3 linked regions of the Homo sapiens genome follow. The protein of the gene in region 2 purifies or fractionates together with the protein of the main gene of each other region. This does not show direct contact. Each region holds a gene or a part of one and is shown on either strand. Other genes may lie near its edges.

Region 1 (4,724 bases), on a different chromosome or scaffold from region 2:
AGTTTTTTTATGGCCCCACAATGCCTGACACACCAGATGTTCAGTGTTTATTGGATGATGGTATAAATCAATTATTGAATAAATACATTTCAAAACTTACAGTCCTCCTAAGTCTTGGGCAAAATTCAGAAGTGTAATCCACACAAAGGACTCACAATCTCATGAAAACTCTGCAGTGCTGAGCTCTCCTTATAGTACACACTCAGTTATTGCAATCCATAAAAACACAGCATCATGAAGCTAAAACAGGCCCTGGAGAGCATTAAAGCAGTGGTTTTTAAACTGTGTGTCTCTGGGCCCTCTGGTTGGTTCCTAGGGGTTCCTCAAGGAGAGGGGGAAGGTAACAGAAGGGTAGTAGGCTGGCGAATGAACCTCTCTCCCCAAACCTCTCACTCCAGCTTTTACCAAAGCTGCTCCTTATTTCATTAGCTAAAAGGTTCCTGCCATATTTAAAAAGAAATCTATATGATTCAGCACACTCATGCTCTGTTCACAGCTTGCATTCTAAACCTCCATTGTTTCCCAATCCTACTTCTGTATGGTTTGGCCCTATCTCCTGTCCTTCCTGCCTCTCATGGACTCACTGTACCTGTTGCATGATACTGCTTCTTTGAATCATGCTCCCTCAACTGAAATCCCCTAACTATGATTATACTCAACCCTTAGGTAAAATTTATAATCCAGGTGGTCCCAGCTCAACCTTTGGGTCCCAACACTGGCACAGAAAGTCAACACTGCCTCTGAAAAGGAAATCAAGGAGGACCTGGGGAATCAATGCTAAAAAAGTTACAGTTGTTACTCATACCTGAGTTGTTGTGCTACCTGTGTCTGCTTTTCCACTAGAATGTAAATGTGTTGAGGGAGGAACGGAATCTTAGTAATAAAAGCTACTATTTACTGAATGTTTACTCTTAATACCGGACTAAGTATAAATGTGCATCATGTAATATTCAAGAATCATGTGAGTATCACAGAGCTTTAGAACTGCAATGAGCCTTGGACAGAGATCACCTAGCCCCAAAACTGAGAGAGACAGTAGATTAACAGTTATTCATTAATTCAAGAAGTATTTATTAAGCACCTGCATCCCCACACTGTTCTAGAAGCTACAGATTCAGTGCTAACAACACAAAGTTCTTCATTTTCAGAAAACATATATTCGAGTAGACAAACAACAAATAAATGGATATATGATCTGCTAGGGGAAGGGACAGAAAAAGGAGGCCACTTTACGCAGGGCATTCAAGGAAGGCCTCACGGAGGCAACATTTAACCAGAGACCTGAGGAACTGAGAGATCAAGCCATATGGAATCTAGGAGAAAAGTGTTCCAGGTAGAGGGATGCAAAGGTTCTAAGCGGGAAATGTGCCTGATGCATGTGAGAAAATGAAAGAGGCCAGAATAGCTGGAGTAGAGTGAGCAAAAGGAGGGGGAGAGGAGGTGAGGCCAGAGAGGGAGCAGGGCCAGATCATCTGGCTTTGGGCCACTCCAAGAACTCTGAATTTCAGCCAAAGATTCAAGATAATCAATTCCTAAAAATAAGTAAATAAAAAACGAAGTTTAGCTTCCACAAAAGAATGTATTATCAAGAACAAAATCTCATCTGCATGCCTAATCTGAAAATAGAGTTCCCAGCAATTCAGGATCATTATTACCTTATTTAGAATCAAAGTGTCCTTATTCTACAAGAAATCTCTGCAGTTATCTAATCGAAGCTTTCAGTTTTACTAATGTGGAAACTGAGGCCCAGAGAAATCACATGAGCAGCCCACTTACTGGCAGACCTGCGGCTAGAACATGGGTTCCTGCTTTCCTGTGCGGTGCTCTTCAGTAGCCCCTGCTGCCTCTGCACAGCAGTTCGGTGCTTACGGGTTTCTTGCTTACCTGTGTGGTAGCCCCCCCTGGCTCCTGTAACCTTTATAAGTCAGTAAGAGAATAGAAGAGCTGCCACTATGAGGCATCTCTAGGCCTATCCTCACCCCAGAACCTGTCATTATAAACTCCTGCATTTTCTAGTTTCTCATTCCCCACAGAGTTGAAGACAGCCAGGCAGGCAAGGTGAAGGCACATCAGGCACTGTCCCAGGCACTGTGAGGGATGTTTTTGTTGCTTTTGCTTGCCCAACATTCCTTACTCCCTATTCCCAGACAGGGCACTGCCTTTTCCATGATTCTGGTGGGGGCTACATAGCATCCAAGCCACCTATTAACCACAGATTGAGGTGGACATAGACCTGACCAATTAAAGAAACATTCCTCTGGCTATAATGACTACTGTAAGAGAGAGCAGAGGATCAAGCAGAACCAACTAGATTTCCTTCCTGGGCTTTATGGATAAGAGCTAGAGAAAGAAGCTCTATCCCTGAATTTTCCAGTTATATGAGCTAAGGTATTCCCACTTTGTTCAGGTTAATTTACATTAGGTTACTATTACTTGCAAACAAAAGAACTCGGACTCATGTAGGCACCTGCATACCTTTTCTTATTTCACCTAACAACTTTATAAGGTTGCTATTACTCACTCTATTTTAGCCATAAGGTAACTGAAATTAAGTGGCTTCCCCAAGTTCATATAACAGATAAGACACATTCAAATCCAAGTCTTTCTGCCCCAGGTTCCATTCAGTATGCAGTATTCAGAATTAACTCAAGAAGAAGAAACTCACTGCCATTCAGAAACCAAACAAATTCTGGTTTAAAAATTACAGGAGAATGTAGTGGGCAGAGGGAGAGCAGCATTAAACCAGGTCAAAGGACCTGGCTTCTACTTATGGCTCTGTGCTATGACCTCAACTGCTACGACTTTGGGCAAGTAATTTCATTTATTTGGGTGTTAGTTTTCTTATCTATTAACAAAATGAACACAAGGTCCTTTTGAGTGAAAAAAAAAAAAACCACAAACAAACAAACATGGGTCTGCTTTAAGCATACAGATTCTACTGTTACTATATGTCAAGTAGATTTCAACTTGAATGTCAAGCCTAATAACAGGTAACGGCTCCTGGGGTACAATGTTGCAAAGGATTCTGAGCTATAGGGATCCACTAAGAAATTAGCACTGGCTTCCATGATCACAAGGAAGAAAAGAAAGTAAAAGCTGCATACCTGCCACACATCTGCCATCACTGAAAGAGTTTCACCTTGGCAAAGAAATGTTACCATCTTTTACGAATGCAGACAGTACTTCTGCACCACCGCTGATTCATCAGTACCTGCTCAGGATTTTCACTCATTCCTCACGCACTTAACTAAATTAAGGAATGAAAGTGCAAGAAAACTAAGTGGTTTGGAAAATACAGCTTGGTGCCACTAAAGAAAATATGTCTAAATGGCCTACATGAGGAGGGGGGAGGTAGTTTGGGGGAACAATAATAATCAGTCTGTTTTTTTAAAATACATACATATAGACTATGTGAGTAGGGTAACTCAGAAGCTACCCTACTTAGCTTGTGAGTTAAGTAGGGTATTATCACGTCCACTTTATAGAAATGGAAAACGAGAGTCAGACTTGCCCAAGTTCACCCATTTCTAAGTAGCAGAAGCGAGATTTGAACCCAAGGCCCAGGTCTCTTTCCAATCCCATCATCCTCACTAGTCCCACACTTCAAATGAGTTAACTAATCAAATTCCCATTGCAGAGTGACATATTCATTATTATTTGGAGTTGTTCGAATAATATAAGTTCCTCCCCCAAATAATCTGAAAAGTCGTTACTCTCCATTTGTAATTTAATGGGTAGACATGCATTTGAGTATATATAAATTTAGTAAAATTGAGCATAAAAGTTAAATGTTTAAAAGAATGATGCAGAAGCAATCAGCCTGTTGTTGGAAGGTAGGGACTGCAATAAAATTGCAGTTTCAATGCAATTTTATTCAACTTAATATAACCTCTACAACAATTCAGTGAGATGGAAATCTGGCATCAGGCATATATTTGAGGAATGGAATGGAAGAATAGAAATTGAACCAGATAAAACGCATCCTAGAAGTAACAGCAAATGCTTCAAGGAAGGCACTTACCAAAAGGCATACTATAACTTATTACATTTCATTAAGTCTGACAACCAGGGCTAAACCTGAATTAGAATATGTGCTTCTGGTATTTACCAGACTTTTCTCTATAAGGAATCCAGGCCAAACAAAATAACAGCCAAACTTTTGACATCTAATTGTAGTAAAAGCACAGGACATCCATCACTAGCTCTTCTAGTTAAACTTCCCACAAGAGAAGATGGGGAGTGGGGAACGGTTGCAAGAACAGGAGATAATACACAAAGCAATGACAACATAAAATCAAAATTGCTTAAAAGAATGTATGTTTCCTCTACGTCAGGGGGACAGTGTCCCTGAACAACACAGCCCATGAACTCACTTAAGGTGATGTGACACCTACTCACATCAATACATAGCAGAACTGCAAGTTGCATTGTCATGCGGTCCAACCCTGTGACATATGCACAAAGCTTTTCTCAAACATCTCTGAAAAGCAGTCATCACTCTGTTTAATCACTTCCAGTGACAGGGAACTCAGCACCCTATGGGACTGTTACTGTCCCTGAGGCCCATTAACTCAAAACTCAAACACATTTTCACCACTCAGGGAGAGGTGGAAGTGATCACAGGGCTCTCCAAAGGGCTTGCCAACCCAACTGTGCCTCCTGTCTCTACCATTCCCAAATCCCCCCTTTCCCTGAGCAGGACTCAAAATTAGCACAGTGTTAAT
Region 2 (5,181 bases):
TGGTAATTCTCCACCACCACTACCTTCTGTTTGGTTTCAAGAGTTCATCAATAGGAATTTTACATTCTTGACATTATTTTAATCCTCATAAAAACTAGGTGAGTTAGAAACTATTATTCTAACCTATAAATATGGAAATTGAAACTCAGAAAAGTTAAGTCGCTTGCCCAAGGTCACAGAGCCATTATGTGACAGACTGAAACCTGGGTCGGCTGACTCCAGAAACCCCTTCCACCCTCAAAGGTGCCAATCACTCCACAGGCCCATAAACTATAACTGCAATTTGCTAAGAAAATGAATCAAGACAAGCCATCAGATTAAAACAACAAAACACAGTAGTTTGATTCATTTCCCACCAACTACACCAGGCACTATAGGACAGGCCGCCAGTGAGTGACGTTAGTGTCAGTAAAGATCATCCTCTCTTACTGACCATCCGTGGACAGAGAGGCGCAGACCTCACCCTCTACAGAGCAGGCACAGAGAGGGCCTGTGCCAAGCACTCAGAGGCAGACTTGTTTATTCCTCAACACTCCTGCTCCAAAGTCACCAAGAGGTACACAACTCTGTGGAGGACACACTGACTAAAAAGCAGGGGGACAAACCACAGGCCCAGCTCGCAGCACCTGCCAGCCATACATCAGGTGCTGTCTACAGTATTGCTGGACTGGAACAGAACTTGAACTCCAGCTGTTTATACAAAGTAAAATCTAAAATTGCTAAAGGACCTCTTCATGGGTCCTAGAATTTCCACTACACCAGTTTATTATCGAATCCACTATATTTTATTATTACACATTTCAATCAGTAATTATTTATAGTGATTTTAGAGTTTTTAAGCTCATGATCTTATTTTGTACTGTTTTTACTGTTTACAAATACACATTAAACTAAAGAAGACAGAGAGATGGTATCTATCTAAATTTACCTGCATTGGGATTAGTATCATTTTATCCAAAACAACAAATTATAAACCACATATGAAAAGTCGGTTGAAGTGAATACAACTCTTTGAAGCAGTACTTGATTTTATGCATGTGTTCCCCTCAAATTAGATGTAAATCAAAAGTGGGGAGAACACACTCTTTGTTAAGGGTCCTAAGGAAGCTTGCTAATTAGAGATTCCTACATGAACAGCATGGATGCCAGCCTGCTCAGCTGGTACTAGCTTTCCCACACATTGTATCAGAGTTTTGCCAGTAAGATAGAACAGCTGATTCTTTGGGAATGAAAACTTTAAATAGCGAATAATTTGTCTCTTTTATGATACAGTCTATAGCTATAGTTCATTATAATAAAGAAACACCACCCTATTGAGAAGAAATGTGTCATTTCTTTTAGCAGTATGGATTTGTAATGTGTATCACAGTATGTACTATTAAAAAACAAGACAGTATGTTTTGGGAAGGGAAAACAATTGTTGAAGATAAGCGTCAACTATTTGAAATGGGAACAAATATGGACATAAACAAATTTTATGTGCAACATAAGCACCCTTTTAATTTCAGAAACCTCACTTTCCATTTAAAAACATGTCTTCTTATTGTTGAAGATCCAGCATATGTATCAATTTTCAAGCTGCCATCCTATTTCATACAGATCTTAAAAAATGGCCAGGTTTCTAATTCTCTCTCCTTACCCTTACTGAATTTCAACATGGTGCCCCCTCCAAATATATGATGTTGGTTTGTGCAGCTGGCCATGGTGGCTCACGCCGGTAATCCCAGCACTTTGGGAGGCTGAGGCAGGCGGATTGCCTGAGGTCGGGAGTTCAAGACCAGCCTAGCCAGCACGGTGAAACCCCGTCTCTACTGAAAATACAAAAATTAGCCGGGCATGGTGGCATGCACCTGTAATCCCAGCTACTCGGGAAGCTGAGGCAGGAGAATCACTTGAACCCGGAAGGCAGAAGTTGCAGTGAGCCAAGATCGTGCCAATGTGCTCCAGCCTTTTATTAAGACAGAGCGAGACTCCATCTCAATACATAAATAAATAAATAAATTTGTGCTTCTGAAGTAAAAAAAAAAAAATCCATATTTTTTAAATAAAAATTGTACTTAAGAGAATTAAGAATTCTTGCCTCTTTGATATGTAGTTCCTCTCTCCAAGAACTACTGGGGTCCGCTACCCTAACCTAGAGCCATCCTTCCTGAGAGAAATGCAGAAAAAATCCAACAGATGTTCAAAACAGCACACCCAATGGCTTTCCTGCCAGTCTCACTAAAGGTATCTTTTGCCTTTGATCCACTTCAAATGTTGACATTTGTCCATTTAAAGAGTACCAGCCAGTATGGACAAGTTCTCCATCTATGGAAAGAACATACACATTCTCTCTTATAAATCTTGCTGTTCCAAATCTATGGCCCTCCTACTCTTAAAAACCCTGCCTTTCCCTGAAGGCTGATTTAGTGTAGACTAAGATTACAGAAATAGCAAAGCCTCTGTGGAGATTGGAAAAGTCAGCTACACCTCCTCCCCATCTAAAAAAATCAACTAAGTTTAGCCGTAACGCATTGGTAATGAGAACAATACCGATAATTCTGGACTGTCTATGGCAATGAACACTTGGAAAGCCCAGAAGGGACACTGAAAATCAACAGACTGGCAACTCACACTTCCACGTGAAACTCTGGGAGCCTGTATGATGAAGTCAGACTACTTCGCTAATAGACAATTAGGCTTAAGAAATCCGAGTTGTTGGAGAAGTGAATAAGCATGTGGATAAAAGAAAAAAGTGATGTCAGCACTACATTTTTCTAAACCCGTAATAATTTTAAAATAATGCTTACCTTTTCTAATTATGAAATTAGTAAATGGTCAAAATAAATACTTTTAAAATGGCATAGGATGACGCAGTGGCTCACGCCTGTAATCCTAGCACTTGGGAGGCCAAGGCAGGCGGATCACTTGAGCTCAGGAGTTCGAGACCAGCCTGAGCAACATGTCAAAACTCCGTCTCTACTAAAAAATACAAAAATAAATAAATAAATAAAATAGCCACGCATGGTGGCACGCACCTGTAGTCCCAGCTACTCAGGAGGCTGAGGCAGGAGAATCGCTTGAACTGGGGAGGCAGAGGTTGCAGTGAGCCGAGATCGCGCCACTGCACTCTAGCCTGGGCAACAGAGTGAGACTCTGTCTCAAAAAAATAAAAATAAATGATACAAAAAATATAGAGATAAAAACACTTGAGAATCACATCACCCTGATACTGTTGTTAAGTTTCACTGATTTTCCTTTTTTCTCAACTAACATACATACTCTGAGGGGAAGAAAAAGGAGGGGAGCAATCCGTCCCTCCCTGCCTTCTGTGAGCACTGTACTGAGCACTGCTACTGACCTGGCCCATGCCAGTCCCAAGAACAATCCTTCAGAGGAGCGCCGCTCCCTATTTCACCAACATGGACACTGGGGCCCGGCCCAGGCACTCCCAGATGTGCAGTCCTCCAGGCAGTGTGGTTTGGGGGCTTGACATTTGTTATCTTGTGACTTTTAAAATAATTCTTGAGTTTAAAAACTCCCAGAGATTTCTTTGTCATAAGACAGGAAGTAGATTAAAGACAGAGAACAAAGGAGAGGGCCAGACACTTCCCTGGGTAAGAGAACCAATGGTGGGCTCGGGTCCTCCTCAGGGAACACCTTACTTAGTGTTTTCTGAGAAGGAAAAGTGACATCTCCAGGGTACTCAGGCTAGAGGAGGAGAATGACAATCAAACATGGACAGACTGCAGGAAGCCTCTGAAGTGAGGCCGTCAGATGCCTTTACTCTGGGAGATGCAAGTGATATTCACTCAGGGACATTTGCTCAGGCCTCCCCTATAAAGGGGTGGCTAACATCTAATCCACTCTGGAGCTGGGTGTTCACTATTTCCAGAGATGCCAATGTGAGGCCCTGCGTCAGCTTCAAAGAAGCCTCTGGACACTGTCCCCAACCACACCCCCTGCTCCTAGGCCAGTACCTGGCACTTCAGAGTCCTGAACGCACAATCACAACCAGCTGAGTGATCCGACAAGAAACGAGTGGAATGAATGCACGAGGTAAATAAAATGTACGTCACAGACAATTGTGGAAGCCACACTTCATGAAAAAGATAACGGCACTGCACAAAAGAGCAAAAGAGGCAAGTGAAACGCACAAGGAAATGAGGTGGCCGTGGGCACCCACGATGAGGCAGCAACCTGCATTTCTAATAGCACTGGGGTGAGCGTGGAGGAGATAGTGCTCTCTACGCAGGGCCTCTGATCACAGAGCGTGAAGACTCCCTTTTAAGCCCTTAGAGGTGAAACATAAGAAAAGCAAAAGGGCCTGCCAAGTTCATGCAGTGAGTAGCCAGTTTCTGGAACTTGCTGCCTGAAAAAGGAAGTAGGAAAGACTGGAAATCGGTTCAGACAGCAGACCCCGAAGTAATTATGACCACTTATGTGCCCCTCCTTGGAACATTATTCAAATGGTTCTTCAACCTAAGTGGTTCCATAATTTGTTACCCTCCCTCGCATCCTATACACTTCCTTTTGAGGTCATAAGCTCCATATCTTCAAACTGTTCAGCCAGTAGCAACATCTATTTTAACTCAGAACGCCTGCTCTCCAAGCCCCCAAGCCCTCTCCAGGGCCCCGTGCCCAGGCGGGGAGCTGGCAGTGAGGTTCCTGAATGGGAAAGGAAACCCCCACACAGGCATGACCATGACACCTGGCTCAGTCAGCTACCCGTTGAGTGGTGTTTTTTTTTTTTAACTAATTGTTTTTAGTGGCAAAGTATACATGCACATGGTTTAAAAATATATATCCACCCTAAGAAAAGGGTTTGCAATAGAAAGGAAGTTTTCTATCCCAGATGTTTCTTGGGGTGTATCCACTGTTAACAGTTTCTTGTGTATCTTTTCAGGAATTTTTTAAGCACACACAAGCATAAATATGAGTTATTTTTCCTGAAAAAAAAAAAAAAAAAAAAAAAAAAGGAGCAGGAATCATATTATCCATGCTGCTCTGCATCTGGGTCTTTCCACTCCGCCATGTGTCTGGGGCTTATTCCACTGCAGCTCTCATGGATGGGCCTCACTATTTACCTGTTACAGAGGGTCAGAGATGCTACACAATATATTTAACCAGTTCCCAATGAAGGCTATTTAGGCTGTGCTCAGTCTGTTGTCATTATCAACTAGTTAAGGTTTTTAGAATATA
Region 3 (4,724 bases), on a different chromosome or scaffold from region 2:
TAGTATCCAAAACAGAAAAAGAATTCTATCAACTCAACAATAAAAAGACAACCCAATTAAAAACTGGGTGAATGATCTGAATAGATATTTCTAGAAAGACATACAAATGGCCAATAAGCATGTTAAAAGATGCTTAATATCATTAATTACAGAAATGCAAATCAAAACTATAATGAGATGCCACTTCAAACCTATTAGGATGGCTACAATAAAAATATCGGATAGTAAGTGTTCAGCAAGGATCTGGAGAAATCAGAACCCTCACACACTACTGGTGGGAATATAAAATGGTGCAACCACACTTCGCAAAACAGTCTATTACTAAAAAGGTAAACATAGAGTTATCATTTGACCATGCAATTTTATTCCTATGTGTTTACGGCCACAAGAGAATTGAAAACATGTCCACAGAGAAACCTGCACATGAATATTTATGGCAACATTATTAATAGCCAAAAGGTAGAAACAATCCAAATGTCCATCAAGTGGTAAAAGGATGAATAAAATTTCGTACATCCATACAATGGAATATATTCAGCCACGAAAAGGAATAAGGTACCAATTCATGCTACAATATGGATGAACCTTGGAAACATTATGCTAAGAGAAATCAGCCATATACAAAAGACCACATATTATAGGATTTCATTCATATGTAATGGTCAGAGTAGGCAAATATACAGAAACAGAAGGTAGCTTAGGGATGGAAGAGGATGGGGGAGGGTTGAGGATGTGATAAATGGTACCAGGTTTCTTTTTGAGGTAATGACAATGTTCTAAAATTGACTGTGGTGATGGTTGCAAAACTCTGTGACTATATTAAAAACCAATGAACCATACACTTGTGCTCCTTAAATGTGTGAATTGTATGGTATGTAAATTATAATTTCAATAAAGGTGTTATTTAAATAATGAAAGAAGAAGAGATTGCAAGTGGTACCTCTTTCATGAATAGCATACTTGAGTTTACGCAGGGTAAAAGAGAAAGCTGGGCATCATAAAGCTACACAGGACACAAAATTTGCAAACGTCACTAACAATTTAAATAGCAATTTGATTCAACAGTCAATAACAAAGATGTTGTGACTTGTGGAAGACACTGTTACTTACCTATCCAATATCTACTTTTCTCCTTTTCCTTGCTAAAAGAATCTTGCTAGATTTTCTTTGGGGTGACTCATCTAAATATTGACTTTTGCAGCCACCCTTGTAACTGATTCTACCTAGTGAGAAATAAATAAAGGTCTTCTGGGAGTTTCTGGAAAGGCTTAAATTCCTGATCAAAATCAACAGTCAGGGCTGGCACAGTCCATGTCCCTCTTCTTGTTGATGTGAACATAGATTTGATGCCTACAGGCGCAGCGACAAGCAAGACAAGGAAAACCAACAAACTAAAGACGAATGATCAGCGACAGAAGGAGCCTGGGTCTTTGATTACCTTATAGTACTTCTGCACCAGTGTGGACTTCCTAATCTCACCCTTATTTTAGAAAAGGAAAACCCTATATAAGTTAGAAAGGCAATATACCTAGGCTTTCTGTTTGTTAAAGCCAGACTCAGACTTTACCAGTACAGTGGTTGCCCTTATTTGCAGGGGTTATTTTCCAAGACTCCAGTGGATGCCTGAAACCAGGTAGTACTGAACCGTATATGTTTTTTCCTATACATACATATTTATGATAAAACTTAATTTATAATTTATAAATTGGGCACGGTAAATGATTAGCAACAATAGCTAGAAATAAAATAGAGCAATTATAAAATATATTCTGTAATGAAATATATTACAGAAAATATATTCTGTAATGAAAGTTATATGAATGTGGTCTCTCAAAATACTGTAATATATTCAGTACCTGGTTAACTGTGGATAACTGAAACTGTGGAAAGTGAAACTGTGGACATGAGAGGACTACTGTATAATACTTCTTCAGCCAAAAGTTTTAAGTCTTTCAGGCTATTTGGAATTCAAAGATAGTCTCAAAAATCAGAGTGAGAAAGTAGGCATAGGAATTTCTGATTTTTCACCCTGGACATCTAGGAATTTTTCTTGAAAAAAAAATCCATTTCCAAATTCAGGAGTCCAGAAAATAAGAACCCATATTACCTGGCACATTCTGTCAATATTTTCTTCAGTTGGCATTACAAAGTATACTGCAGGAACATCTGGAATAGGATCTCGATCAGAGTGTAAAAGCCTAGAAGACATAAGGAACTAAAACTTATTTTTTTATTCACTTATTTAAAACAATATTCCTCAAAATGGGAGTTCACTAGCTCAAGGACAGTAACCAGTGCTCTAAAAGCTCTTGTTGCAATTAATCAGTGAGTTAACCTATCTTTCTCCCATGTCAGTGTTGTTATTATTTATTAGCATTAGTAAGACCCTAATTTCTTGTTAGTCTTCATTTGTTCTATTCTGCTCACACTTTTAGCACTGCTTATGGTCAGACATTCTTTTCTACCAACACTCTCCTTGAATGAGAACTAAAACATATTCAGAATCAATCTTATTCCCACTTTTCATAGAAATGTGGTGGTCAGAGGGGAAGGGTGAATGTGAGGAAAGTGTGGCTCTCTGAGGGGAAAATCAGAAAGCTAGGGGACGCAATGAAAAAAATTTTAGAAGCAATTCTTTAGAAGCTATAAAAAAATTTAACCAAACATGAAATCAAATATATTTTTTAAATGAAAGGTATATAAATGTTTCCTTAAAAATTAAAGACAATCTATTTTTGTCTATTTATTGTTTCATAAGAGAATGTAAGCATCTTATAGATTAAGTCATTTTACAGTTTTCTCCTTTTACAATTTAGGAACAATTTCCATACAAATATCCCAACATCAAACCATGCTTATATGAGGAATATTCACCTCTCTCTAGTCATCCTTCTATAATCAAGGAGAGAGAGGAAAGAGGCACATGCTGCCAGTGAGTCTGTGTTTAATAACTGTTGCCACTGATATCAAGAATGATAATGTGATGGCTGCCATAGGTTGTGGTCTTTTTCACACTGCTTGTCCAACTGTCTAATGGGCTACAACCACCATTTCATACTGTGGAAACTTGTAATTACTGTTTCCTACAAATTAGCCTAAACCAGCTTGCAGGGTATAAAGTAACTGATACAGTATTCTCCAGCAAATAGAGGAGAATGGTTGGAGGCAAAGTACACAAGAGTTCACCATGGTAGCTGTGTAATATTTCCATGCTCTGGTGGCAAGTAGCAAGTTAGGCAGAGATTACGAGACTCTCAAACTGGTAGACTATCCTATTACCCCTGAATGAAGTACTGAGTAAGGCCTCACTTCTGTTAGTTACTGTTACTGAGCCATTACAGTTCAGTAGATAAACAGCACAGAATTAGTGGTCAAGCAATGTGGCCATGGCTCTGTTATTAACTGGTTGTACAAATGTGAGACAATCACTTAAGCCTTCTAAACTTCAGTCCTTCCATTAGTAAATAAAGGAGTTAAACACTTAGTACAGAGACAATGGCACTCAATGTTTATTAATAAACCACAATTTCCAAGGATAGCATGAAGTTAAACTTTACTTCAGTCCATAAAAATTAACACATTATCAAAGCAAACCTGCTTATTTCAGTCTGACATAAAAATGAAAGGAAAACTCATCAAATACCGTATTTCATGAAACCCAAGGTGGTAACAATTTTAAAACATAATTTTTAAAATATATTTTATATACTACTGAGAAATAAAAATGCTGCCAGTTATGACATATCATCAGTGATAAGATAGATCCTAATTTCAGAAATGTAAAAAAGGACATTTGGAATTGACAAACTATAACAGTCTATTAACAAATGCTCATTATACAACTGAAGAATTTGAGCTGATTAAACCAGATTCTGTCAAGTTACTTATCGAAAATCTAAAACTATATTCCCAGTAAGAGTACATTTCAATTCAATATATGATATCATAAAAATTGGTTATAACATCATAAATAGAACAAAATGCAAATAGCTTAGAACACCATAAAATTGGACTCTTTTAGTATACAGAAGTATTAGTATCTATCCATGAACACAGTCCTTCTCCAAACGTTCTTTTTTTTTTTTTTTTTTTTTTTTTCAACAGAATCTTGCTCTGCTGCCCAGGCCAGAGTGTAGTGTCACGATCTCGGTTCACTACAACCTCTGCCTCCTGGGTTCAAGCAATTGTCCTTCCTCAGCCTCCCAAGTAGCTAGGATTACAGGTGGGTACGCCACCATGCCCAGCTAATTTTTGTACTTTTAGTAGAGACGGGGTTTCACCATGTTGGCCAGGCTGGTCTCGAACTCCTGACCTCAAGTGATCCGCCCACCCGGGCCTCCAGAAGTGCTAGGATTACTGGCATGAGCCACTGTGCCTGGCCCCTTCTCCAAATGTTCTACTAGGCAAGCCCATAAAGTACTGCATTTGTTTTATTTTTATTAAACATATCAGAAGCAATATAATCACACAAACTTAACAGTTAAGACAACACAGATAGCCCACTATGGTGATTAACAGTCATTACTTCATAGTCACTTAAATTTTTCATATTAATGATTAATTAGATATTCCTTTTTTTTAAAAAAATATAGACACTCCCTGACTTACAATGGTTCAACTTAGGATTTTTTGACTTTATGATGGTGCAAAAGCAGTGCATATTCAATAGAAATCATATTTTAAGCACCTATAAAAACATTCTGTTTTCAACTTTCAGCACTGCA

The links.
Region 1: the proteins of STX16 (region 2) and STX18 purify together in Homo sapiens (affinity purification with mass spectrometry; one large-scale study listed by BioGRID and IntAct). This does not show direct contact.
Region 3: the proteins of STX16 (region 2) and SCFD1 purify together in Homo sapiens (affinity purification with mass spectrometry; one large-scale study listed by BioGRID and IntAct). This does not show direct contact.

Annotation. Positions count from the first base shown.
Region 1 is NC_000004.12:4,535,223-4,539,946, forward strand, and holds part of STX18 (syntaxin-18), read right to left. Parts: intron 1-4,724. UniProt on the Homo sapiens protein: Syntaxin that may be involved in targeting and fusion of Golgi-derived retrograde transport vesicles with the ER.
Region 2 is NC_000020.11:58,660,490-58,665,670, reverse strand, and holds part of STX16 (syntaxin-16), read right to left. Parts: intron 1-5,181. UniProt on the Homo sapiens protein: SNARE involved in vesicular transport from the late endosomes to the trans-Golgi network.
Region 3 is NC_000014.9:30,631,421-30,636,144, reverse strand, and holds part of SCFD1 (sec1 family domain-containing protein 1), read right to left. Parts: intron 2,199-4,724; coding exon 2,108-2,198; intron 1-2,107. UniProt on the Homo sapiens protein: Plays a role in SNARE-pin assembly and Golgi-to-ER retrograde transport via its interaction with COG4. Involved in vesicular transport between the endoplasmic reticulum and the Golgi.